7 linked regions of the Homo sapiens genome follow. The protein of the gene in region 4 purifies or fractionates together with the protein of the main gene of each other region. This does not show direct contact. Each region holds a gene or a part of one and is shown on either strand. Other genes may lie near its edges. The genes, in order: BASP1, CORO2B, TIGAR, TWF1, TXNDC5, PIGR and CORO1C.

The links.
Region 1: the proteins of TWF1 (region 4) and BASP1 purify together in Homo sapiens (affinity purification with mass spectrometry; one large-scale study listed by BioGRID and IntAct). This does not show direct contact.
Region 2: the proteins of TWF1 (region 4) and CORO2B purify together in Homo sapiens (co-immunoprecipitation; one large-scale study listed by IntAct). This does not show direct contact.
Region 3: the proteins of TWF1 (region 4) and TIGAR purify together in Homo sapiens (affinity purification with mass spectrometry; 2 studies listed by BioGRID and IntAct, with this or other methods). This does not show direct contact.
Region 5: the proteins of TWF1 (region 4) and TXNDC5 fractionate together in Homo sapiens (co-fractionation; one large-scale study listed by BioGRID). This does not show direct contact.
Region 6: the proteins of TWF1 (region 4) and PIGR purify together in Homo sapiens (affinity purification with mass spectrometry; one large-scale study listed by BioGRID and IntAct). This does not show direct contact.
Region 7: the proteins of TWF1 (region 4) and CORO1C purify together in Homo sapiens (affinity purification with mass spectrometry; one large-scale study listed by BioGRID and IntAct). This does not show direct contact.

The regions. Positions count from the first base shown.
Region 1 is NC_000005.10:17,216,143-17,220,430, forward strand, and holds the start of BASP1 (brain acid soluble protein 1), read left to right. Parts: upstream 1-1,488; 5' UTR 1,489-1,668; intron 1,669-4,288.
Region 2 is NC_000015.10:68,577,812-68,581,792, forward strand, and holds the start of CORO2B (coronin-2B), read left to right. Parts: upstream 1-1,181; 5' UTR 1,182-1,451; coding exon 1,452-1,466; intron 1,467-3,981. UniProt on the Homo sapiens protein: May play a role in the reorganization of neuronal actin structure.
Region 3 is NC_000012.12:4,319,912-4,324,012, reverse strand, and holds the start of TIGAR (fructose-2,6-bisphosphatase TIGAR), read right to left. Parts: upstream 2,801-4,101; 5' UTR 2,742-2,800; coding exon 2,710-2,741; intron 1-2,709.
Region 4 is NC_000012.12:43,796,318-43,799,817, forward strand, and holds part of TWF1 (twinfilin-1), read right to left. Parts: intron 3,186-3,500; coding exon 3,081-3,185; intron 2,269-3,080; coding exon of another isoform or gene 2,248-2,268; intron 1,517-2,247; coding exon 1,391-1,516; intron 1,136-1,390; coding exon 985-1,135; intron 781-984; coding exon 659-780; intron 1-658. UniProt on the Homo sapiens protein: Actin-binding protein involved in motile and morphological processes. Inhibits actin polymerization, likely by sequestering G-actin. By capping the barbed ends of filaments, it also regulates motility.
Region 5 is NC_000006.12:7,886,789-7,890,288, reverse strand, and holds part of TXNDC5 (thioredoxin domain-containing protein 5 isoform 1 precursor), read left to right. Parts: intron 1-707; coding exon 708-794; intron 795-1,440; coding exon 1,441-1,584; intron 1,585-3,500. UniProt on the Homo sapiens protein: Protein disulfide isomerase of the endoplasmic reticulum lumen involved in the formation of disulfide bonds in proteins. Can reduce insulin disulfide bonds.
Region 6 is NC_000001.11:206,932,967-206,936,466, reverse strand, and holds part of PIGR (polymeric immunoglobulin receptor precursor), read left to right. Parts: intron 1-648; coding exon 649-981; intron 982-1,720; coding exon 1,721-2,047; intron 2,048-3,300; coding exon 3,301-3,481; intron 3,482-3,500.
Region 7 is NC_000012.12:108,655,019-108,658,518, reverse strand, and holds part of CORO1C (coronin-1C), read left to right. Parts: intron 1-1,095; coding exon 1,096-1,215; intron 1,216-3,500. UniProt on the Homo sapiens protein: Plays a role in directed cell migration by regulating the activation and subcellular location of RAC1. Increases the presence of activated RAC1 at the leading edge of migrating cells.

The sequences.
Region 1 (4,288 bases), on a different chromosome or scaffold from region 4:
GTCACTCCGGTTCTGGAGGGCCACCCTGTCCCTGAATTCACGCCCAGGTCCTGAGGGCAGAACCATCCTGAGGACAACCTGCAGCTCCATCGATTTTTTCTTGGCTGGGACGCAGGCGAGCATGAAAGCGATCCAAACACAGCCAGAGGGCGCCAAAATGCCGCAAATAAAAGTTCCAAAGGCGTCAACTGGCTTTTGCGGGAAGGTAAAATTGGCTTTTGTGTAATCAAAGAGCTACCGTTGTCAACGATGTCACGTTACGTTATTTTTGTATGTCCCTCTTGCCAACAGGTAAGCAAAGTGAACGCATCTTCCTACCCCGGTGGCTATTCTGTGTCCCGGTGCTAAACCAAGTGTCCGCCCCCTTAGGGCACCCGGACAAGCCGCGGTTGGCCCTAGCTTTGACTCGAGCGCTCGCAAGCAGCAGCGTGCGGGCTGCCTCGGCCAACCCCGTCTTCTCAATATTGGTGGCCTCCATTAAAGCACAGACATCAAAAACATCGACGGCCCCTTTCCCCTCTTCTCTTCCCTCCTTCCTCTCCCAAGTTCCGAGAGCATCCTCCGAGGGGCGACGTCTCTCGCCCCACCAGCTGGACCTCGGCGACCGCGCCTCCCCCGAAGCTGCAGCCTTCGGGGCTGAGCCCCGCGGGTGCGGGTGCAGGTGCGGAGCCGCCCAAGGTGCGCAACTCGTTTGCAGCGGCGCAGCCCAGACGCGCCTGCAGCTGGGGCTCACCCCAACCTCGCTGCCAGCCGAGGTAGCGGAATCGTAGTCGACGTCGGGAGCGGGCTGGACTGGGGTCTGAGAAGGGTAGCTGGTGCCAGGGGGTGTCATTCATCACCTCGAGGCAGCTCCCTAAGTCTGAGCGAGAGCCCGAGCACTTCTTATCCAACGGTTCCAAATAAATGAGGGGGAGAGAGAGAGAGAGAGTGAGAGAGAGAGAGAGAGAGAGAGAGTGAGTGAGAGAGTGAGAGAGTGGGAGAAGTCCACGGACAGCCCAGGCGGCGCGGCGGGGGAAGGGGGACGCAGGAATGGAGGAGAGGAGAGGGGAGGCGGAGGGGGGATCTGAATAGAGGGCATTTAGGAAACGTTGGCGGGGCACAGAGTTGGGAGGTGGGGGGAAGGGAGGAACCAGGATGGCGGATAGGAGAGAAATGGGGGTGACTGTGCTGGAGGGGAGGGGAGGTGGGGGCCCAGAGCTGGGGGGAGTCAAGGGGAGGCGGGCGTGTCCAGGCTGGAGGGGAGAGGGGAGGGTCTGCGCCGGAGGAGGGGAGGGGAGCAGAGGGAGTGCAGGGGGTGGGGAGATGGAGCTGGAGGGGGTGGAGGGGAGACGGGCGGGGCGCCGGGCTGGAGGGAGGGGAGAGAGGCGGGCGGGGAGCGCGGGAGGAGGGAGGCTGGGCGGGCGGACGCGCGGGGGGAGGGCACTGGGCAGGAAGGGGAGGGGGAGCGAGCGCGAGAAATGCAGAGGCTGCAGCGGCGGCGGCGGCGGCAGTAGCGGCAGCGGCGACGACGGCGGCGGCAGCGCTCCAACTGGCTCCTCGCTCCGGGCTCCGCCGTCGAGCCGGGAGAGAGCCTCCGCCAGCGGCCAGGCACCAGCCAGACGACGCCAGCGACCCCGGCCTCTCGGCGGCACCGCGCTAACTCAGGGGCTGCATAGGCACCCAGAGCCGGTAAGGAGGCGCGCCCGGTGGCCCCGCGCCGCCGCGGACCCGGGGGCCTCCGTCCCCCACCGCGCCGCGCCCCGCCCCGCAGCCCCCGGGCTCTCCCTTCATGCAGCGGGCAGCAGGGATGTGGGCCCGGATTGGACGGCAAGGGCCTGGGGTCCCTCTGTGAGGGCTCCGTCGCACTTCGGGGATCCCGGGTGATGGGGGGCCCAGAAGTGGGAGGCTTCAGCCGCTCGCATGGTGGAGGGGTGAGGGGGGCGGCGAGGTTGGTAAACGGAGCTGGGGGGAGGGGGCTGTCGGGGAGAGGAGCTGCGGGTGACGGGAGGAATTGCCGAATGCGAAACCCCCTCAGTGCGTTGAGTCCCGGGGAGACGGTTCTGTGGGCTGAAGGGAGCGCTTCCGTCATCGGAGCCCTTACCAGCCTGGGAGAAAGCGCTCGGGGCGAGGGGCGCAGCAGCCAAAGATGGAGGGTGGGGGTGGGGTGGGGCGGGAGTCCGGGGAGAAAGAAGATGGGGAATCTGGCCCGATCAGAAGGAAGTGGGTGGCTTTTTGCTTTGGCAAACGGGTTTTCTCGACCCATGGGACTCCTGGATCTTGGTTCTGGGGCCAAGGAATACGAGGTTCACACGGCGACGTGCACTCAGAAGCACCTCCCGAGCAGATCGGAGCCCCAGCCTCGTCAGTGGCGGAATTGCCTTCCTACGAACCCGTGGGCTGCCTCGGAGCAGTTTGTTTTTTCGAGCCTTTGGTTCCAAGAATGCGCCAGGCGCCTCCGCCCTGGGTCCCGGCCCCGGCCCGGGCCCGGGGGGTGTGGGCTTGAACCTGACAGCGCGCGGCCCTAACTGGGCTCAGCCCCGCTGGGAGCGTAGGGTTGGGGTTGAGCAGCTTTTGCCCAAAGCGCTAAAGCTGAAACCCGGCGCCCGGTTCCTGCTCCCCCCGCCCCCGTCCCCCCTCCATTTCCAGAAAAATAAAAATTGCGGAATCCTGGATCCGATCGCACGCACAATGCGCGGCTGCAAACCGCATTCTTTTCATGAATATTCATCGAACGCTTGGCCAGGCTCCTTATCTGCGTCCCCAGAGACATTTCCGCCTTGAAACGAACTCGGTGGACAGCCCTTGCCCATGTAATTCTCACTCTGCTGAAATTAGCACAGCACACATGGGTGCATTTTTTAGGACCTTGTACAGGTTGACAACACCTCTGTCTCCCCCGCGGCCACTCGCACTGTGGGGCGGGCTAAAACCCAACACTAGCGTCGAAATGGCCTTCTGCTATAGGGTTGTGGACCGACCCCCCACCCCCACCTCCCGGGATTACAGCCCGGGCCAACAGACCCCCAGTATACTGCAGGCAAAATGAATGAATCGGGACTGTAATTACCTATTCCTTTGTCTTGGCCTCGCGCATGCGCCGGAGAGCAGGGTGTGGAGGGCCCGGCAGCCCCATCCCATCTCCATCATCCAGCCACCCACTCCCCTCCCGAGCCGAGGAACAAAGGCGTTTGCCCTAAATGTTGCGGGAAACCCTTGGACACCAATGACAGTTTTTCCCGCCTGTGTGTGTGTTTCTTCTTTTCCAGGCTGTCTCTCATCTTTTGCTTTCTTGCTGATTTCAATTGACCAAAATTAAGATTTGCCTTGATGAGGATGAAGGCAAATTGTGGATTAAATATTTTGTACCCGCACACTGTTATTTTCCTTTCTAGTACTGTTCATTGTTCTTTTTCCTGTAACATATCTTACTGCAGTGAGGGTGGCTTTCTTAATTTGCATCAATTAACCGTTTGACAGATCTTTTTTGGTCATTTGATTAAGGGAAGGTGGCCTCAAAACTGTCAGTGGGCGTTGCCTCCAGTGACACCACCTGGGGAAAATTAAGACATCTTGGCGTTTATTCGAACAAGATGGCCTACAAAAACCGGAGAGAAGAAAACGATTACCTTGTCGGGATCCTAACCCTTTCTGTTTTCTCTGGACTCCGAACTCATTGTTTCATTAAGGATTCCAAAAGGCGAATGGCGTCCAGATGGAAATCTGATGGGGGCAGAAAGAAGGCAGTCGTTGGGGTGAAGCTGGTTGATTAGGTTCGCAATGATTCCTTTTTCCCCATTACCTAACAGAAGCCATGATATACCTTTGATGGCTGATTTTCTTTCAGATGATCTATTTTCCAGGTTATGGCCATTTAGATTTATTTTCAGGTAGTTTGTTTTTACCACACAAAAAGGGACTTATTGTGTATATTAAATAGGAGCCAAATATGATATTTTTTGCAGTGGTAGGTTATGTTTAATAGGGTTTTATGCTTAAGTACTGTCAGTACATCCTGGTGGAATAACGCGTGGCAGCAATGGAAATCATCTCTTTTGTCCTTTTTGATGAGAACTTGATATTGACCACGTTTAATATATCAGGGCCCATCTACTGGCTACGGTGGCTGTCTAGCTGTCTTCTAGGTGGCATGGATTGTACCCTCTGTACTCCTTAGTATTGAGTAGGTTATTATGATTTAGAGAGCTACGTTCTTTCTTTTTTCTTTTCCTTTAGGTTGTGTTTTTGGCGAGGGGTATGTTGGAATATAGAACAAATTCAATAGCAAATATATACCAGCATGTCCCCAATT
Region 2 (3,981 bases), on a different chromosome or scaffold from region 4:
ACACTGGTCTCCCGGAAGGCAGGCATCCCATCTCCTCTCTGTTCCCCCAGCACTTTCCACAGAGCAGGTGCTCATATATGACGTTGCCTTCGCTGTCCAGGTGAATTGCACCGGTAATTACCGTGGAGCAGGAAGCCAGCACTTCCGGGCTTGCCAGGCTGTCCTGCTTGGAGAACCCCTCTGCTTCCACCTCTGCTAACTCCTCCCCTCCACCCTCTCCGCGGTTCTGTATCTGCGGAAACCGGTTCTGCTCAGGTGCTTGGGAGGGAGACTCCTTTCTCAAGACTTGCGAGGTCACCTTCAGGTGACTGTCCCTCAAATCTCCGCAGCAGCTCCAGGACACACTGTGCCCCGAGTCAGGATTGGATCAACACACAGGACGCACCTGTGTTATCACTCCACCAGTAGAGCGGCACTCAGTGGTAGTGTAGACAGTCCTAGGGCAGGGCAGCTTCTATAACAAGAGGTTCCTTAGGGAGCTAGCGGCCGAGTGGAAAGAGCGGGAGGAACGGCTCGGGCAGGCAGGTCCTGTGCTGTGGTCTAAGTCACTTCCCACGTCCGTCCCACTCTGATCGTCAGTTTCCTCCTCTGCAAAACTCACTAAGGCGGCCTTCGGGCAAGTCATCGCGGCGGGAATTAGATTCGAAAGAGTGCTTACACAAATCCGTCTGGCCACCCTGTGCCCCGGGCCAGCGCGAGGTGGGGGTGCGGGCAGGGCTCCCGGGCTTGCGGCTGCCACGCCCCTCCCAGCCCGCCGCGCCACACTCACGGCCCACGGGCCGACTTTGCGAGCCTCCAGGGGGCGAACCCGACCGCCTTCTTTGCCCGCGCAGCGCCTCGGCCGTCCAGCCTGTGACTTCACCAGCGTCCCCGGGCCAGCGGGACACCCGAGAGCCCGGGGCGCCGCCCGTTCTCCCAGCCGGCAGGTGCCGGGAGCCAGCCTCGCCCAGCCGCGTGGCGTCCGCAGGCCCGAAGGGGTTAAGGCCGCGGACCCGGGCGCCCGTCCGGACTCCGGGAGCAGCGGTGCCCGGCGGCCGGCGATCGAGCGGGAGGCTCGGGGCACGGCCGCTGGCGGGCTGCGCTTCCTCCTCCTCCTCCCTCCGCCTCCTCCTTTGTAGCGAGTTCCCGGCCCCTCTTCCTCCCCCCGCCCCCCAGCCCGGGCCCTCTCCCTCTCTCCCTTTCTTCCTGCCTCGCCTTCCTGCGGCGAAGGAGGCTCATCTATTATAAATGCACATTCGGGGCTGACATCAGCGACGAGCGGCGGGCGAGCGCCGACGAGCGGTCCCTGCGCGCTGCCCGCCCGGAGCGCAGCCCCCAGGCTCGGCCGAGCCGCCGGCGGGGCGCGGGGAGCGAGCCGGGAGCTGCCGGACCCCCTTCCGCCGCCGCCCCGGGCCGCCGCCGCCGCCCCCGCACGCCGCGCCCGCGCCCCCGCTCCGCCGCGGAGTTTCTGCATGACTGTCACAAAGGTAAGCGCCGCTCGCCCGCCGCGCCCGGGACCCGCCGGCGCCTGCATCCCCCGGGCTAGGCTGCGGGGGGCGCGGGGGTGTGGGTGTGGGGAGGGGGCGCCGGTGCCGGGAAGGTGCGGCGCGCGCCTCTCTTGCTGCCGGATCCGCTCGAGTCACTCCGGCCCCCAAGGACTGCGGAGGCCAGGGGGAGGATGCCGCTCTGGCAGCCCCGGCGGTTTGGCCAACATCCCTCCGCGCCCGGCCCAACCCCGGGACTGCATTTTTAACCCTTGTTTGGGATGCTGCATTTTTAACCCCTGGAGAGCTGGGCTGGGCGGCTAGCGGTGTCCCTCCAGGGAGTGCGCGGCGGGAAGCGTCGCTGGCAGGGGCTGGTGCTGAGCAGTGGGTGTGGGGATGGGCCTGCCGCCCCGAGGAGGCCAGCGGAGGGGAAACCCCACCCCACCTGCCAGCCTCTGCCGCCCATGCCGGGAGCGCTGGCTCCACTCCAAAGCCACTCTGTGCAGAAGGCGCTGCCCAGTCCCGGGAGCCGCTACCAGAGACAGGGCAGGTCCAGGTGGTTGGCTTGAAGATGTGGGGAGGGAATGTGACAGGGGAAGCAAAGGTGGGCATCTTGGCAGCCCCCATATTGGAGGATGATTGTTGGGCCTTGTCATAGGGGCCCACGTTTATTGGAGAGACTTCAGGGGCTTCCTAGTTGTAGGGAGGAAAGAGTTAAGAGGAAAGATGATGGGGCAGTGGAAAGTGCCAGGGTCAAGGGACCAGGGAGACCTGAGTTCAATCCCAGCTCTATCCCAGATCCCCTGGATGACCTTGGTCGGGGAGGGGTCCACTTTGGGCCTCAGTTTCTTCTTGTGTGCTGTGAGGGTGATAATATGGGTCCTGGGTTGTGACAGGCTGTTAAAGAACCAATAACATCAAGGGTGTGAACCCACACTCTTCAGAGAGATCTGTCTGGGTACTGAGCTCACAGTCTGGCGGTGGCCTCGGGCTTGGCCGTCCATTCAAGGGCCAGACTCCACCCTTTCCAGCTGCCCAGCTGGGTCCCAGAATTGGGGAGCTGGAGGCCAAAGTGGGACCGGCAGCCCAGAGTGGGGTCAGATGGAGGGTCAGAGCAGTGGGGCCAGATGGAGGGTTGGGGTGCAAGTGATGGAGGTGGGGTGGTTTTGGCTCCTTCTGGTAAGCCAGGGCCTACCCTTGCCCTCCTGAGGTCTGCCCCAAGACTGAATGTTTGTGCGGATTCTTGGGCCCAACTCCAAACTTTGCCATTGGCCCTGGTTCTGGGACTTGGGAGCATTGTGAGAAGATGAACTTGAGGGTGCAGGGGCTTCCTCAGCTCTGGCTACTTCTGGCAGGGCTGTTGTGGCCCACCTGGGGTAAGATGCTTAGGGTTTTGAAATGATGCAAATGCTATTCAGCTGGGAGGGATATTAAGGTTATTAATGTCAAAGATGCAAGCAGGCTGGGACAGAGGAGTAATGGATGGGCCCGGCTAGAGAGAGAAAGGGTGTGAGGTTTTAATAATAGCGCTGAGGATTAACTCAGCGCCTCCCCTGTGTCTCTTTTTGTGCGCGAGCTCATGCAGCCTTCCTTCCCTGGAGGCCTGCAAGGAAGGTGTGTTCAGTTCTCTTTAACAGTGGAAGGAACTGAGGCTCAGAGAGGTGAAATGACTTGCCTGAGGTCACACAGCATGTATGTGGCAGAGCTGGGGTTTGCCCTCAAGTCTGTCTCAATCTATGGCCAGTGATCTTTGCACTGCTCTGCATCGTTGGGCATCCTGGCTACTGGGGGACTTCCATGGTAGAGGAGCACTGCTTGGAGACCTGAACCTTGAAGCAGGGATGGGACAGGGAGTCCATGAAAGTGGGTGCTTACCTGTTAAGCCCACTGGCAGGCCTAGCTTCTTGGTATCCAGTAACTATTCAACACTCCTCCACCCCCATACCCAGCCCCCAACAAACCCTCCATGTCGCTCACCTCCTGCTCTAACCAATGTGGCTTTGGCTTAAGCAAGCTCAGGGGATTAAATAAAATCCCCACCTTAACCCTATCTTCTCTCCCCTTGCTGGCCCTTCACAGACCAGCGTGTTCTTGTGGGGAACAGAGAGCAAGAGGGATGCAGGAAAGGCACTGGGGACTGCTTTGCTGTCTACAAGCCCGCTGGTAGTAGCTCTTCCAGTACCATAGGGAAAGCCACCATGCTCTGGAAGTCTGAAGGCCTGGCCCCTAGTCCTAAATTAGCCACCAACAGGCTGTGTGACCTTGGACCAGTCACTTCCATCCTTGGGCCTCTGTTTTTCTATTTGTCAAATGTAAGACTTGGTTCCAATGATCTCTAGGGCCTCTTCTGCTGAGCCTTGGTGCAGCTTCAGTTCTGGCAAGAAAGTCACCTCTGATGGAGATTGGGAGACTCTTTGTTCTCTGAGGGGTGGTCTGTTTACAAGACAGATATGAAGGAGAACCCTAAAGAGGGTGTGAGAGGTAGGATCGCTGCTGACACACTGGGAGCGGTAGGTAG
Region 3 (4,101 bases), about 39 Mb from region 4:
TGCTTTAAAGATTTTTTTGCATTATCTGAAGAGGTAAGTCCAATAAAATTATCTAACTCTTCAAAAAGTCATTACATTTAACTATGGTGATAATGAGTCAAATTTAAAAATCACTTCTTTTCCTGAAAGAATCACCAGGTTTTGGTTTTGAGAACTCTGAAGGCAAGAAGCAGGAGGATCCAGACCGGAAAGCATTGAACCAGCCCTCTCACTCCATCTTCCTACACATAAAACAGAACAAAATAAACTATTGTCATAACTCCACACAATTATATTAAGAGACTAAAAAGTAGCCTCAAAAATGGCTGGTGATGTTCAAGTAATCTACAAATACCGGGTTTTAACAAATTAAGTAGGAAACAAAAGACGGTGAGTGGTAAAGTTGCTTTGGTTAAACTCCTACTTCCTCAACTTGCCATGTGACTTTAAGCAAGTTACAAGGCGTCTCTGTCTCAGCTGCCTCATGTGAAAAATGAGGATATCAGTCCTTAACTCACTAAACTGTCAGATTTTAATTACAACAGTGCCTGGCAAATAATCATTTATTAAGACTTATTTTTTAAATGATTCCTATGAGGGCCTCCGGAATCAAACCCTTTTTAAGCAGCAGAAAGGGAATAAAATCCATATTTATATGACTATTGTCTATTAGGAATCTAAATAGGAATCATCTTACTTTTTAGGGGTTGCCTTACCCCAAATATTCTACAACTTCTGAGTTTTCTTTTTTTTCTTTTTGAGACAGGGTCCCACTGTGTCGCTTAGGCTGGGGTGCAGTGGCCCAATCACAGCTCACTACAGCCCTCACTTCCCAGGCTCACATGATCCAAGTGATCTTCCTGCCTCAGCCTCCCTATTAGCTAGGTTCACAGGCATGCACCACCACAGCCAGCTTTTTTTTTTTTTTTTTGTAGAGAGGAGGTTTCACCATGTTGCCCAGGCTGGTCTTGAACTCCTGTGCTCAAGGGATCCACCCACTTCCGCCCCCCAACGTGCTAGGATTACAGGGGTGAACCACCTTGATGGTCTGAGTTTCAATTATAAATATGACACTGGGCTGGCTGGGTCAGGCGTCTAGAAAGTGCACTAACATTGGAAGAAAGGGTGATCAGGCCTCTAGTTCCTGTTCTGCTACCGATTAGCTGTGTGACCTTTAGTAAGTTAAGAATTCTCCCAAGGCATTCTATACAACCGAGAGGGGTGGGAGAAGAGATAGTGAGGAACTAGATTTCTAAGGTAGCCATTAAAATCCTGCTAATCCTAAACAGACAATTTTAGAGGATTCTTAAGATTATCTTTCTTATAAAGGAAGGACAGGCCAGAAAAGATAGCTGTTAAAGTCAATTGACAAAGTTAAATCATATTAATGTCCTTTGTGAGCTCCATGAATGCAGAAATGGTATGTTATTTATCTGTATGATCCAGTCTACTGGCACACATTACCTACTCAAAATGCTGGTGTGCTGAACTATACGTTCGTATTTGGGAATCAACTGCACTTTTATTGGAGCTTTCTTTATAGAAGTTATTTCTCAGATATATTTCTTTCCCTGTTGCATCATACACTTTACCTGTCCCCCATTTAATTCTCGCATTAAAGTAGTGAGATACGCACTATCATTTGCATATCAGGAAACTTAAGTCCAGGCTACCTGGCTCTTAGCTGGAGAACAGACTCCAACCGAGGTCTACCTTGCCTGAAAAATCTGTGCTCTTAGCAGGGCGCGGTGGCTCATGCCTGTAATCCCAACACTTTGCGAGGCCGAGGTAGTCGGATCACTTAAGGTCAGGAGTTCCAGACCTGCCTGACCAACATGGCGAAACCCTGTCTCTACTAAAAATACAAAAATTAGCCGGGCGTGGTGGCGCATGCCTGTAATCCCAGCTACTCGGGAGGCTGAAGCAGGAGAATCGCTTGAACCCCGGAGGCGGGAGGTTGCAGTGAGCAGAGATAGCGCCACTGCACTCCAGCCTGGGTGACAGAGCGAGGCTCCATCTCACAAAAAAAAAAAAATAAAAATAAAAATCTGTGCTCTTAACTACCCTGATTTTCACCTCCCGTTAACACTTGGCAAATACATAAAGACCTATCAGCATGCAGCTCCGTGTAACGTTATGATAATAAAAACATTTATTTGGGATGATACGGTCTGCTGAGATCAGAGCTGTGATCCTCTTTTCTCTCCCAGAACTGTAACCTCTGGGGAAAAGAAAGAAGTCTCATATATGTGCCTGGGGGGCTGACTGCCTGGGGAAACGAGGGGGAACCTCAGAAACTGAGAGGATAGCGGAAGGCAGCCGGCATCAAAAACATCAGCCATGGACGAGCAATTCTGCAAACTCTTTGCAATCTGCTGGGGAGCAAAATCGGTACCCAGACAAGTCTGTGGACATGTCTGGCACCGTTTTTGGTGCAGCCACCAAGTGCCTACGAACCCCGATCCCTTGCTCCTCCGGGCCTCACTTTATCTGAAACACGGAACGAAGCTATCTAAGACCTGCCGTCGTCCCTCGGGGCTGCTGGGGTGAGAGGAGGGGCGACACGGGACGGCCCCAGGGCAAGCGCCCCGGAAAAAGCGCTTCCAAGCCAGCCCTCCCGGGCTGGAGCGAGCAGGGAGGGGAGAGGGTGGTGGACCCGTTTTCCCTTCACCCGCTCCAACACACTCAAGGAAGAGAGAGAGAAAGACATCCTGCCACAGCCATACTCACTGCCGGACAACAGTCAGAGCGAAGCGAGCCATGTTCCCGGAGCCGCGTCCCGTCGGTGGCCCCGCGCCGCGCTGCCCCTGCACTGCGGGCTACCTCCCCCACACCACTTCCGCCAAGCAGCCGGCCGGCTCCGCCGCCATAGGCCGAGGCGGCCTCGCACGTCATCCCCGAAGGCCACTCAGGGCCGGGCGAGGCCGACGGGGCGGGGGAGACGAGGGAGCCACGGGGGCCCCGCCCAGGGCTGCGGCGCTTGCGCCCCTGCGCGCCGGCCTGTGATTGGCGCGCGGCAGGTGCGGGAGGCCCCGCCCGCGGAGTCCGCGGTAGGATTCCTTCCCTCGATAGCCGGCAGCCTGCGTTCGGGGCAGATAAGGAAGCCGGCGCACTGATTTGTGGTTGTTGCGATTGAGGCTGGAATGCAACCGTTCGTCTTATAGCTGGCCACTGTGATGAACCCCTCACGGGTGTACAGCGACCAACAGACTGTGTTCTATGAGGTCTGTTAGTCCCTAACCTTAGGGACGTAGCGTCGGCCAGGTCTGTAGACTTAGACCCACCCACCCCAACTCCGCCGGGACAGACGCCCTCCGTGACCAAACTTTAGTCGGGCTCCTTTGAGGCCTTTTCTATACTAGACGGCATCCTCGGCCTGCTGAGCCTGGTTTTACCAAAGAATCCTGCTAAGCCTGTTTATCAAGAGAGACCTCACTGTTGATGCTCTCTTCTAAGGCCCTTGATATCTAGTAAAGTTCCTCCTCCCCCTCCCCCAGATAGCTTACCACGTTCTGGTAATTTCCCATCTTCTCTTTCATCCCTTCCATCCCGCCCCCTGGCTATAAATCTCCACTGGTCCCGGTTGTATTCTAGAGTCGAATTCAGTCTCTCTCACCTATTGCAGTAGTCTTGAGTAAAGTCTTGCCGTTTTTAACAAGCCTCAGATGAATAATTTCTCTTTAATAGCCTTCAGAACGTTGAGGGAGTTGCTTCATGTTAGATATGAGTTCTAAATTTCTTTTCAAAGAATCAATATGTCAGTATGTTCAATTCTTTGCTTTTTACTTTTAAACTTAACTTCCTCCTAAAGCAACCTTCTCTTTTTTATTTATTTATTTATTTTTTTGAGATGGAGTCTGGCTCTGTCACCCAGGCTGGAGTGCAGTGGTGTGATCTCGGCTCACTGCAAGCTCCGCCTCCCGGGTTCACGCCATTCTGGCTCAGCCTCCCGAGTAGCTGGGACTACAGGCGCCTGCCACCACGCCCGGCTAATTTTTTGTATTTTTAGTAGAGACAGGGTTTCACCGTGTTAGCCAGGATGGTCTCGATCTCCTGACCTCGTGATCCGCCCGCCTCGACCTCCCAAAGTGGTGGGATTACAGGCGTGAGCCACCGCGCCCG
Region 4 (3,500 bases):
GAACTTAAAAAGCATGAAGGGTTCAGAACCTAAAAACACTGGTAGTTTTTAAGGACCTGTATTTTTATGAGTTTAAGGGCTCAAGAATATATATCTTTCCCCATGCCTTATCTGTACTTAAGAAAATTTAAGAAAATTGGTAGCTTAGTTCCCAAAATTCAAATGTTTATGCTTATTCCTTCCTTCCCCCAAACTGGAAAGACTCCCAACCATCCCATAATTCAGTCATAATGGAGACTGTAATTCCTTATTAATATGCAGTAGAAATAATCACAAGTATGCAGCTCTGGCAGCGCTGTCCAATAGGACTTTTTGCACTGATGGAAATGTCCTATAAATTCTGCACTAACCAATACGGTAGCCAGTAGCCACATTTAGCTAATGAGAATTTGACATAAGGCTAGTGGAATTAAGAAACAGAACTTTAAATCTTATTTAAAGTTAAATAGCCACATGTGGCTTACTAGGAAGTACAGATATATATAGAGATGGGGATCATGACAGGTAGTTCCCAGGCACTTAGAGGAGATCCTAAGGATTTAGGATGATAACAAGAAAAATAAATATTTTCATTTATAAATCACAGTACATCATAAACTACATAGAAATGAAAAGAAAAATTTAGCAAAAACTGAAGATTTTAAAATAGGTGGGCTACCTTTCTAATTACATCCATTTGTAGTTGTCTTTCTACAATTTCTAGCAGACGGCTCTTGCAGCTAGAATACAGCATCCGCTCTCTTATACTGCATGTGTATCCAGGCATTGAATAAATAAAAACTGTAAGTTCAAATAATAACAAATATAATTAGCATATCAATACATAAACTTCATAAAACTACATATATAAACTTCATAAAAACAAGTACAGAAACTTCATAAAACTACAGCTAAGCCCTCTGGGCAAGAAATAAGTAAGAATATAGGGCTGATACACCAATAAACAAACTGAAAGTAATGTGTTAAAAACAATGTATCATATACCTATGGACTCTAAATAGTCTCCTTCATGGGAATGTTTATACAGAAAGAAATGGTAACGAGCTGAATCCTTGGGAATCCTCTTTGGCAAATCTTTCAGTTCTGTATTTGTTGTGTTGGCCAAAATTATAATTTCATTTTTTATATCTATTTCCTGCCAATAAGAAACAAAATATGTTCATTAAAACCAGATATAAGGAAATTAAGTTAAAACATATAATAAAAAGACCAAGAGATAAAGGAGGAACTTAGTTCTGGATGGTTTGACTTTTTCACAATGAACATTTACAAAATGAATTTTAGAAATCAGAAAGCTATTTAAAATGTAAAATCCATTAATAATAAACCCTATATGAGTCATAAACTACCAAAAAGAGCAGCCACTTAATAATCATTATACATCTCTTACCAACTGCACATAGTTGAGCTGTCTATTATTCAATTTTTCCAAAGCCTGAAAGGCTTCTCGAGAAATGGGAAATGCTACTCCTTGTAGTGTTTGATGCTTAGTGTCCACACCCACGTCAGTCTGTACCTAAGTATGACAGATTTAATTTACAAGTTTAGCAGTTAGCAGTATCCTATGGCAAACATAAGAAAACCCAACCTCTATAAAATAGTATCATTCAACCCTAGCCCAACCTATAATTAAAATTATTTTTCACATTTGTTTACGGTCCTGCTAGCATTTTGTCAACATGCAGAGTGCATGACACATCTTTACGACAATGTTGGAAGTGAACATTTGAATGAGTGTACAGTTAGTGGGGTTTGGGTGGGTTTGTTTTTATGTTTGGTTTGGCACAATTTCTTTAGAGTGTCATCAGATTACACCACTGATTGTAAAATTTTACTTGATAGAATTTATAAACAACAATCTACATACAATATGTATAGAACTTTACTTTGTTCTGTTGGACAGAAAATGCAACACAAACATCATGCACTGAATTGAAAGGAGTACAAACAGTGTACAAAGACAACACAGCTCAACAAGTTATACTACTGCAGAAGTTCCAGACTTAAGAGATTTCTTTACTAAGAACATGGTGTGCATGTACTGGAAGAGGAGAAAGATAAGAAAGCATTCAATGCACATGTTTAAGATTTTTATACTTGATAAATGATAGCTAGTAGAGAGTCTCATTCGCAGTGTTGCAACAGAAAGTCCAATAGAAATTTTACTTTTAAAAAAATGAATGGAGATTCTACAGCATAAATGATATTGGTTAATGAAAACATCATAGAACATATGCGAATGCATACCCCAATATGATCCTCTGGGCTCTGATTGCAAGAAATAAAACAAACTATCAAACTCGTAAAAAAAAAAAAAAATCACATAAAAAGCCCTACTCAAATAATATGAATTAAAATAATATGATAGATCCTTGCTACCAGTTTAATATTAAATGATATTCAACCATTCTCCAGACTGATTCCTACTGTCTGTGACTCAGGCTAATGAACAGTGGTTTCAGCTAATGAATAGTGGTTTCAGCCACTTGTTCTTTTCTGTAAAGTCCCAGTAGAAATACAGTAGTTATTCCAGTATGTTAGAATGGCTGTAGAAAACACATTAAAAATAATGATAAACTACAAAATAATATGGCTGAAATTTATTGACTCTAATATGCTCAACAGGTACTCAAATAATAATCTTCCATATATATCTCTATTCAAGTAGAGTTCATAGAAGTTAATTTGTAGACTCTCTAGAAAGCCAACAAAACAATAATCTGCTTCAGGCAACCTTATTAGATACATTCTTTGCACTAAATGGGTAACACACACTTTTTCTCTATATAATATTCAAAGTACAAAGTTCACAACAGTTGTACTTCAAAAGGAAGATTTACTATTCTGACATGAAGATTATAGGAAAAGCTATTTATAAAATGCATATAAAGTTTAATATTCATTTTAACTTTTTTTTTCTGAAAAGGCATTAAGCACATAGCCTTATCTCTAAACTAAACGGAATAAACCTAAGCTACCTAACTTCTTTAATCTCTAGTTATCCTCCCACATCTATTAATTAAAAATACAGTATTTTCAAACACTTAAAATCTTGCAAAGACTTTGTAGTTGTAACTTACCTCATTGATTTTAATCTGTCGTAGTTCTTCCTCAGCTGCAGTCAGTGGGGCAGGGGAAGATTGTGACAGCAAGTATTTTTTATATCCATGTAATGATACATCTTCCTGTAAGTACAGAATAGACTATAATCAGTAATTCTCTAGAAGTAAAATGACAGTGAAGTTACTTTAGGAAAAACAAAATCATTAACAGAAAAGATTTTAAATGAAAATAAATAGCATTATGAATTTTAATATCTTTTTACTTTTCTTTAATCCTCAATTTTAAGTTTCAAAACTTTTTAAGGGGAGTACCCACTGTTCATTTTATATGAAGCTTTATAATTACTAAATATTTTGTATGAGTTTCATACTGGCAAAGTGAAATACTGAACCTGGTCATCCTGTAAGTCTATAGGACAACTGTAATTAACCTTCTGG
Region 5 (3,500 bases), on a different chromosome or scaffold from region 4:
AGTGAATAACAACTTAGTCCTGCCTATTTTAGTGCTGGTAGAAAATAAAAAAGAAAGCAATGACTTAGAACAAGATGTTTCATGAAAATGTTGGGCAAGCAGCAGCTTTATGAGATTTAAATGAAAGAAAAAGCTTGAAGAGCTGTGCTTGTTGGTAAATTAAGTTTATAAAATTAAGGACGGATTATAATCTTGACATCTTTGCAGTCTTACCTTTATTATATACCAACTACTCCTGTTTAAAATTCACTTCTTGCTCCCTGTTGATTTTAAAACCCTCTAAGCTTCAGCATGAGAGTAAATTCTAAGCTGGCATGTGAACTGGTCTGGGTCCCAGTCACCGACAGCCAGGCTAACCCCCCTCCCACCACCACCAAATGTCAAGCCAGGGCCCTGACTCAAGCTACCAGGTGCTGACTTTACTTGCTCGAGTTAAAATGTTGCTTCCTAAAAACCGGCATGTTTAACTGAGCTATTAATACAATAAATCTTGCCTCTAAAGTCTTTCCTTTACTCCTTTTAGCTCAGGTATGTTTTAGCATAGCTTTCAGGAACATTCTCTTCAAAAACTGCACCTTGCTGGCAGAGTTGCTACAGAATGTGGATTTTGAAAAGAATATTTGTAACGTACAAAGTGTCCAGTAGCCCCATTAGCAAGAAGGTTCATGAAGAAACTGACTGGGAAGTTGATCTGCTTTTATTCTCAGGTTGATTGTACACAGCACTATGAACTCTGCTCCGGAAACCAGGTTCGTGGCTATCCCACTCTTCTCTGGTTCCGAGATGGGAAAAAGGTACGTCTGCACTTCTTAGTACTGAGAATTCTTCATCTCTTAACCCCATCAGGCTGAGCTACTGAGTGGTTTAATGGGCACAGTGAATTGCCAATCTTGATTGTTAGGGCACTGGTTTGGAGAAATGTGTATAATGAAACAAACGTCTTTCTCTTAATTGATAAGATTTGGGTTGTGGAGATGAACCTTGAAACATTTCAGTGGCCCAGGTTATCACTAGAATAACCCACATCTTACAGTCACAGGGTAACTGTGCTCTGGTTGTAAACACAAACCTTCAGGCCTTTGAACAGAGCTAAGGCTTGCACTTGGTCCGGTTCTGCCTGCCTCCCTCCCTCCTTCCCTGGCCGATGGTCAGCAGCTCAGAGTTCCCCATCAGCACAACGGCTTGCTGGCAGGCCTCTGCCCCAGACTTCTGTGATGTGTAACCCCGTGGAGGGAAGAGGGGCCTGTACAGTTCTCTCACCAAAGCCGAGGCATTCAGTTATCCTCTCTACATTCCCGTCTAAATATGAACATGCAGACTTTGCACCACCGCTAAGACATCTGGGAGCTCTGACCCGGGCAAGCAGGGGTTGCAGGAAGGCTTAAGTGATTCAGAACACCTCAGTGGACTCACTCAGCCGCGTGCCCGTGTCTTGGCCAGGTGGATCAGTACAAGGGAAAGCGGGATTTGGAGTCACTGAGGGAGTACGTGGAGTCGCAGCTGCAGCGCACAGAGACTGGAGCGACGGAGACCGTCACGCCCTCAGAGGCCCCGGTGCTGGCAGCTGAGCCCGAGGCTGACAAGGTGGGTGCCTGCTGGAGTCGGGATCCCCATAAGTGGCCCGTGGCCCCCGGCCCCCCACCTCCCCACCCTCAGAGGCCTCCTCAAATGCTTTGGACAAAATGACAGTTTGGGGACACAGTCATCTGATGGTTGGCTCCAGTTGCGTTTTCAACACGTATTTTTCATCGACTTTCACATGCTTTCAGGGGCGAATGCAAACAAAAGCTTTCCTTTTGAAAACATGAAATGGATGTGAGACAAATCCCAAGACAATATTTGGTGTCAAAAATCTCTAGAGAATCCTTCCTTTCCGCTTCATTCATTTTAAAGAATGACTCTGCTGGGCATGTTTCTGCTATGAAATCTCGACTGCTGGCCCCGGGGCCCTGATTCTATTCCTGACCTTGCTCCGGGCATTTTCCTTTACCCGTTGTAAAGGCCCCTAGAAGACCTGTAGCCAAGAGGGCATCCGCAGCGATCAGGCCAGTGACTGTAGCTGTAACCTGCCTAGGCAGTCCTGATGCACTGAGGGGCTTCCTTCCTTCACTCAGGTAGCAGGAGGTTTCAGATTCATTTGTTCTGCTTTATGAAGCCCTTGTTATGTCACAGGCACTGTTCTAGGCCACCAGGGAATAAAAATAAGACCGGTTTCCTGCCTCTGAAGCATACAGGTCTCTGAGGCAAATGGTGAGAAGACACACAAGCCAATGGCAGGGGGCTGGGGCAGAAATGTGTGCAGGGCTTGGCTGCTAGAGAGAAGTGGGGGCAAATGGGCAAGAAGTGTCCCTAAGGAGCTGATTGACGGGATCTGTGCTGGACAGATAGGCTGGGCAGGGCTGCCACTGAGGGGCTGCACCAGGAGAGGCACAACCCGAGAATCAGCCGGCATTTCTGCAGGGCCAGAGCTGGGGCTGGGGGAACACAGTGGGAGACAGGTCAGGGTGTGGTGTAGGATCCCTGAGAGTGAGAGAGGAGCTGGAGTTGAGAGTCTGTGGGCAGCTGGCCAAGGATTAGGAACTGTATCCCATATTGACAGGGAGCCCATGGAGGCTCTGTGCAGATTGGAGTTGTAGGAAAATGACCGGCATGCACGTGTGCTGGAGGTGGGAAGCTGCTCTATTAGGCCTTTAAAGATGATGCGTTCCCTCATGCTGCAGCCGTGACTGTGCGATGGCGAGGAGGAGAAAGCCAGCATAAGGAGTCCAGCCGCTGTGCAGCGCGGAGAGGGAGGGAGGGTCCGAGGCGAGTCTGATTCCCGCATATCTGGTGGAGGATGGTACCCAGCACAGGGGCGGGGCCAGAGCTCGAGGAAAGGGATGAGCTTGGTTTTCAAGGTGTTGATCTTCAAGGCTTTCGGCTGTGTAGGTGGCAGTGTCCAGTGGCAGTTCCAACCATGAGCCTGGGGCTGCGGCAGGAGGTCTGCACTGGACGAGAGTGCCCGTGTCATCCTCTTCAGGTAGAAGTCATGCCTGAAGGCCAGGAGTTTGGATTTGGAAAAACCAGTGGGGCCACCAACCCCTCCTCCCTGGTGGGGCCACACCAGGCCTCCTCACCCCTACAACCCTGTCCCTAGTTGGGCTCTTGTAGGTCGGGGATGGCCTGAGTGTTGTTTAAAAGTTGACGTTTTGGTTGAAGAAGTAAACAGCTGATTTTGTAGTTGTCAGGACCACTTATGTTAGAGGAGTGTATGTGTCATGGTGGTTACAAAGGTCATCCCAAATTGAGTATAATTATATACCACGGATGTTTTCATCGCAGCACCATTTCTATTTATAATGCAGTTTTCCACCATGAAGTGGGTCTTTTCAGTGCGTGTGGCGTCATGTTTCTGGACATAAAGATGGTAGTGTTCCACAGTGGCCCCCTTGGCCTCCGTCACTGACATGTTACTCGATGCCAGACTCAAATGGAGCAGCCCTGGTACACTTAGCCACGTG
Region 6 (3,500 bases), on a different chromosome or scaffold from region 4:
GTATCTGTGCTTGTGACTTTTTTTTTTTAAAGGGGCTTATATTCTCTGCATGCCATGTCCACATCCAGCTCTGGGTTTTCACCAGAATCCCCTGCATCTTTGGTCACCTGCTTCTCTCTGGATCTCAGCTTTAGCTGCCTGGAGAATGGCTATCGTCTTTGAGATGCCCCTTGGGGCCCCAACAATTAAGCTCACCTTTGCTACATACTTTATAGTTTACATCATACCATCCTAAATATATTTTCTTGATTTGGGCATAATCCATTGGGCCACTTTTGTGGAATACACTTGTTAGTGTACTAAATAGACAAAAACCTACACAGAGGGAGACTTTGTAAGAAGCCAAAGAAGAGCTGATATCCTCTCCTTCAACTCCTTCCATTCTCTGCTCAGAATAAGATGGGGGAAAAGAACAACATGTGCAGGCTGATGGGGAGACTCCAAGCCCTTGGAGTCTGGCCCTGATGGCTCCAGCTGCAGGCTCTGTGACATTAGGAAAGCTCCTTTTCATTTTCTGAAGAGGGTAAGGTGATGCGTGTAAACTTCACTCCCCATCCTGGCTGAGACCCCGGGAAGAAGGCTTCTCAGGCCACGCAAGGCTCTTCCTGCGTGGCCATCCTCCCATCCCATCTCTGTCTGTGCTTCCAGAGTCCACGATTCCCCGCAGCCCCACTGTGGTGAAGGGGGTGGCAGGAGGCTCTGTGGCCGTGCTCTGCCCCTACAACCGTAAGGAAAGCAAAAGCATCAAGTACTGGTGTCTCTGGGAAGGGGCCCAGAATGGCCGCTGCCCCCTGCTGGTGGACAGCGAGGGGTGGGTTAAGGCCCAGTACGAGGGCCGCCTCTCCCTGCTGGAGGAGCCAGGCAACGGCACCTTCACTGTCATCCTCAACCAGCTCACCAGCCGGGACGCCGGCTTCTACTGGTGTCTGACCAACGGCGATACTCTCTGGAGGACCACCGTGGAGATCAAGATTATCGAAGGTAGGAGTTGACAGGGAGGGAGAAAGCTCTAAAACCTCTCCAGCCAGCAGCAGCATCCCCAACCACTCTTCCTCCTTTTTCACCCGCCTCCACCCTGATGGGCCAGACCTCAGGAGGGAGCCCACCTATCCAGAGGTCACATTTTCATGCCTATAACACGCACCTTACACTCTGAATTACCATACATGGTACCTCCTACTACCAAGAACATGGGCTTCTTTCGCAGTGTGCAGGCATCAGCTGAAGTCAAGGATTGCAGATACCTCTTTGTATTGAGTCTAGAAGAGAAGGAAGAGTGAGGAAAGCAAACTGAAGTCCATGTGTGAAGATCTATGGTCTATGGTAGACTCTGGATTGATCATGGTGCTCATCAATAATAATTATTACCTAGGCACACAATTACATTTCTTCTGTAGTCAGAATAACATACTTATTTCTAATGCTATCCAAAGAGGATATGTAGACTGAACATGGTGGTGCATGCCTGTAATCTCAGCACCTTGGGAGGCCAAGACAGGAAGATTGCTTGAGCCCAGGAGATGGAGGCTGCAGTGAGCTATGATCGCACCACTACCCTCCAGCCTGGGTGACAGAGAGAGACCTTGTCTCAAAAACAAAAACAAAAATATATATATATATGTATATGACATGTGGACAAAGATTCCCACCAGAGTCACTTCCCTGCAGCATCTCCAAGTACCAACTTCTGTGTTTATTTCTACCTCCCTCCCTCCTCCAGGAGAACCAAACCTCAAGGTACCAGGGAATGTCACGGCTGTGCTGGGAGAGACTCTCAAGGTCCCCTGTCACTTTCCATGCAAATTCTCCTCGTACGAGAAATACTGGTGCAAGTGGAATAACACGGGCTGCCAGGCCCTGCCCAGCCAAGACGAAGGCCCCAGCAAGGCCTTCGTGAACTGTGACGAGAACAGCCGGCTTGTCTCCCTGACCCTGAACCTGGTGACCAGGGCTGATGAGGGCTGGTACTGGTGTGGAGTGAAGCAGGGCCACTTCTATGGAGAGACTGCAGCCGTCTATGTGGCAGTTGAAGAGAGGAAGGCAGCGGGTGAGTCTCCAAGGACAGGGCCTGCACCCCTCAGACCCAGAGGCAGGACTTCCTGAAGGCCCCTGCCTGAGAGCTTCTCAATCAGTGCTGGCCCCTATGTTTGGCTGTAAGAGGCTGAAAGTGGAGAGTGGGAAGGGAGGGGACATTTAGGTCCTATATAGCCTCGTTGAGCCCTTCAAAAGGGACATCTCAAATAAACATACCAACTAAGTAAAAATAGTGGGTTTGCTATTTAACCTCGGCATTAAGACAACTCCCAGCTGAATGTGGTGGCTCACACCTGTAATCCCAGCACTTTGGGAGGCCGAGGTAGGCAGATCACTTGAGGCCAGGAGTTCAACACCAGCCTGGCTGACATGGAGAAAACTCGTCTCTACTAAAAATACAAAAATTAGCTGGGCATGGTGGTGTAATCCCAGCTATTTGGGTGGCTGAGGCATGAGAATTGCTTGAACCCAAGAGGCAGGGGTTGCAGTGAACTGAGATCGTGCCACCACACTCTAGCCTAGGCAACAGAGCTAGATTCCATTTCAAAAAAAAAAAAAAGACAAGTCCCATAGTTGCCACTTCAACCCAGATTGAAGTCTCTTCTATATCTGGAAATATTCTTCTCTGTATAGAAGAATAATATGCATACATCACTGTCATATGCAATATGTTCATCCCCCTTCCCCCTGCCAAAGCTCGCCCTCGAAAGAGGGCCAGATACCTTCATTTACAAGGTCTGATCAGGAAAATTAGGAAACATCTAGTAAATTTGCATTTCAAGTCCCCTTTTAAAATTTCACATGAAATGTTTTAGCCCTAATAAGGGTATTTGTAGTCCCTCAAGAAATCCTATTGGGTCTGGACCCTGCGGATGGGACTCACTGAGGGGCCCATCGCCAGGCTACCTCCAGGGGGCAGCACTATCATACCCAGCTGGGCAGTCAGGAAGCCTGGGGCAGCGTCTCAGAGCCTTGAAAATCTCCCGGGCATAAGTGATGGGTCAGCCTTTATGCACAGCTGGTCTATGACACGAAGCCTTGAAGGTCCCCACTATACTTTTGGTAGTAATGGGGCAGAGATCATCTGTGACAGCTGAAGAAGGCCATCACAGCTGTTTCTAATGTCATCCTGGGTCCTACCCCAACAGCCTTGAGATCGAACCCTGACCCTGTGATTCCTCATGAAGTCTCCCCCAGACTCCTTCACCTCGAGGAGTAAGAGCATAGAGAAAAATCACAACCCAGGCCCACTCTTCCCTGCTGCAGGGTCCCGCGATGTCAGCCTAGCGAAGGCAGACGCTGCTCCTGATGAGAAGGTGCTAGACTCTGGTTTTCGGGAGATTGAGAACAAAGCCATTCAGGATCCCAGGCTTTTTGCAGAGGAAAAGGCGGTGGCAGATACAAGAGATCAAGCCGATGGGAGCAGAGCATCTGTGGATTCCGGCAGGTAAGGAAGGATTCAAGGC
Region 7 (3,500 bases), about 65 Mb from region 4:
GCCTTTTTTCACAAAGAAATAGTTTGTATCAGTTCACTAGAGTCCTTAAGAGTTTATAAGTCTTGATCAATTAAACCAATTGGCTGCATTCCTGATTTTGCAGCTTAGTATTGAATATTGATGAATCAATTCCTCACCCTTTTCCAAACACAGCTGTTAAAGATGCAACAGGTGGCCGGGCATGGTGGCTCACACTTGTAATCCCAGCACTTTGGGAGGCCGAGGTGGGTGGATCATTTGAGGTCAGGAGTTTGAGACCAGCCTGGCCAACATGGTGAAACTCTGTCTCTACTAAAAATACAAAAATAAATAAATAAATAAATAAATAAATGCGCAGGGCGAAAAGCAACAAGTTCTCTCATCAGCTCAGTGTCTTAGTTTCTGCCACCCAAACTGGACCTCAACAAAATCACATACCTTGACAAAAGATGGACATTTGGGTCTTCAGTCGGTGTTGAAACTACACATAGTAAGTCTGAGAAGTCCTCATTTGCCACACTCTGAGGCCCTTCCTGAGATGTGGTTGTTCTTTGGCTGCATCTCTTTTCAAGAGTTGGGCAATGATAGTAGCTGGTGCTTACTGAGCCCTGGGGACTTGCCCAGCCCTGTGTTAAGTGTTTTCTCCACCCGACATCTTCTAAGGGTTGTCCTAGTGCATTCATTAAACTACTGAGGTCAAGGAAAGCGTTAACTAGACAAGGCTTCTTTCTGCCCTATGATATTGGTAGAAATGGTAGGGCATGCCTAATCTCCTTATGTTATTATCCTCTTGAGAAACAAACATTTGTCAGAGTCCTTTCATGTGTTTTATTTTCACAGTGCATAGACTTGGGTTGGCAGCAGGATATGGTGGAGAGAGCGAGTCTTCTGAGTTAAATCCTGGCATTCTTGCAGCCTCACAGAGGGACCTTGACCAGATCACATAGTATCTCTTTGTTTCCTCATCTGGGGAAGGGGGATGGTTAACACTGACCTCCCTCCCACACCCAGGTGAACATGAATGGCAGTTGGTGAGGTTGGATCTGTGCCCGAGTTTCTCCACTCACCTTGTCTTCTTGCAGTTTAATGTGTGGCATGTGCCTTTTTGCTCTCCAGGAGAAGGAGAAAGCACATGAAGGAGCAAGACCCATGAGAGCCATCTTCCTGGCCGATGGCAATGTCTTCACCACTGGGTTCAGCCGCATGAGCGAGCGGCAGCTGGCTCTCTGGAATCCGGTACGCCCTCCCCAGGCTTTCCACTTGCTTTCACTTGAGCTTTCTCTCTGTTCTGAGCAGGTCTTCCAGTGAGTAAGTAGATTATGGGATTCTTAGTGTAGTTTTCTAAACGCCTGATTGTCTTAGATTGGATGTGAAGTTCTTATCCTCGTTGGAGACTTACTGGTAAATGTATTTCAAAGACATACTTTTGATACTCCTGAAGAGGCTGTTGACTATATATTTTTTATTTTTTTAATTTTTTTTAATTTTAATTTTATTGGTCATTTTTGGGTGTTTCTTGCAGAGGGGGATTTGGCAGGGTCATAGGACAATAGTGGAGGGAAGGTCAGCAGTTAAACAAGTGAACAAAGGTCTCTGGTTTTCCTAGGGAGAGGACCCTGCGGCCTTCCGCAGTGTTTGTGTCCCTGGGTACTTGAGATTAGGGAGCGGTGATGACTCTTAACGAGCATGCTGCCTTCAAGCATCTGTTCAACAAAGCACATCTTGCACCGCCCTTAATCCATTTAACCCTGAGTGGACACAGCACATGTTTCAGAGAGCACAGGGTTGGGGGTAAGGTCATAGATCAACAACATCCCAAGGCAGAAGAATTTTTCTTAGTACACAGCAAAATGAAGTCTCCCATGTCTACTTCCTTCTACACAGACACAGCAACAATCTGATTTCTCTATCCTTTCCCCACCTTTTCCCCTTTTCTATTCCACAAAACCGCCATCGTCATCATGGCCCGTTCTCAATGAGCTGTTGGGTACACCTCCCAGACAGGATGGTGGCCGGGCAGAGGGGCTCCTCAATTCCCAGAAGGGGCGGCAGGGCAGAGGCGCCCCCCACCTCCCGGATGGGGTGGTGGCCGGGTGGAGGCTGACCCCCCACCTCCCTCCCGGATGGGGCTGCTGGCCGGGCGGGGGCTGCCCCCCCACCTCCCTCCCGGACGGGGCGGCTGGCCGGGTGGGGGCTGACCCCCCACCTCCCTCCCGGACGGGGCGGCTGGCCGGGCGGGGGCTGAGCCCCCACCTCCCTCCCGGACGGGGTGGCTGCCGGGCAGAGACGCTCCTCACTTCCCAGACGGGGTGGCTGCCGGGCGGAGGGGCTCCTCACTTCTCAGACGGGGCGGCTGCCGGGCGGAGGGGCTCCTCACTTCTCAGACGGGGCGGCTGCCGGGTGGAGGGGCTCCTCACTTCTCAGACGGGGCGGCTGCCGGGCAGAGGGGCTCCTCACTTCTCAGACGGGTCGGCCAGGCAGAGACGCTCCTAACCTCCCAGACGGGGTCCCGGCCGGGCAGAGGCGCTCCTCACATCCCAGACGGGGCGGCGGAGCAGAGGCGCTCCCCACATCTCAGACGATGGGCGGCCGGGCAGAGACGCTCCTCACTTCCTAGACGGGATGGCGGCCGGGAAGAGGCGCTCCTCACTTCCCAGACTGGGCAGCCGGGCAGAGGGGCTCCTCACATCCCAGACGATGGGCGGCCAGGCAGAGATGCCCCTCACCTCCCAGACAGGGTGGTGGCCGGGCAGAGGCTGCAATCTGGGCACTTTGGGAGGCCAAGGCAGGCGGCTGGGAGGTGGAGGTTGTAGCTAGCCGAGATCACACCACTGCACTCCAGCCCGGGCAACATTGAGCACTGAGTGAACGAGACTCCGTTTGCAATCCCGGCACCTCGGGAGGCCGAGGCTGGCGGATTACTCGTGGTCAGGAGCTGGAGACCAGCCCCGCCAACACAGCGAAACCCCGTCTCCACCAAAAAAATACGAAAACCAGTCAGGCGTGGCGGTGCGCGCTTGCAATCGCAGGCACTCAGCAGGCTGAGGCAGGAGAATCAGGCAGGGAGGTTGCAGTGAGTCGAGATGGCAGCGTCCAGCTTCGGCTCGGCATCAGAGGGAGAGCGTGGAAAGAGAGGGAGAGGGAGACCGTGGGGAGAGGGAGAGGGGGAGGGGGAGGGGGAAGGGGAGAGGGAGGGGACTATATTTTTTAAAAAGAATGAAGAATCTAGTGTTTTGGATTTGGAAAATAAGTTCATATTTCATAAATAATATGATCAGTTGTCTAAATCAAAATAGTCATGCTTGGGAAAATGTTCATAATTAGCTTAAGTGGGGAAAAATACAACATACATTCTATCATCTCAATCTCTGTGTACATGTGTCGGAAGGAAATAGATCAAAATGATAATAGCTTCTGTCACCCACTGGGCTGTAGGATTTTGATGGAATGATTTTTATGTTCTTTTTTATATCTTTCAACTTTTTAAAAGCACACATATTTTATAATTAAAGAAGTACTTT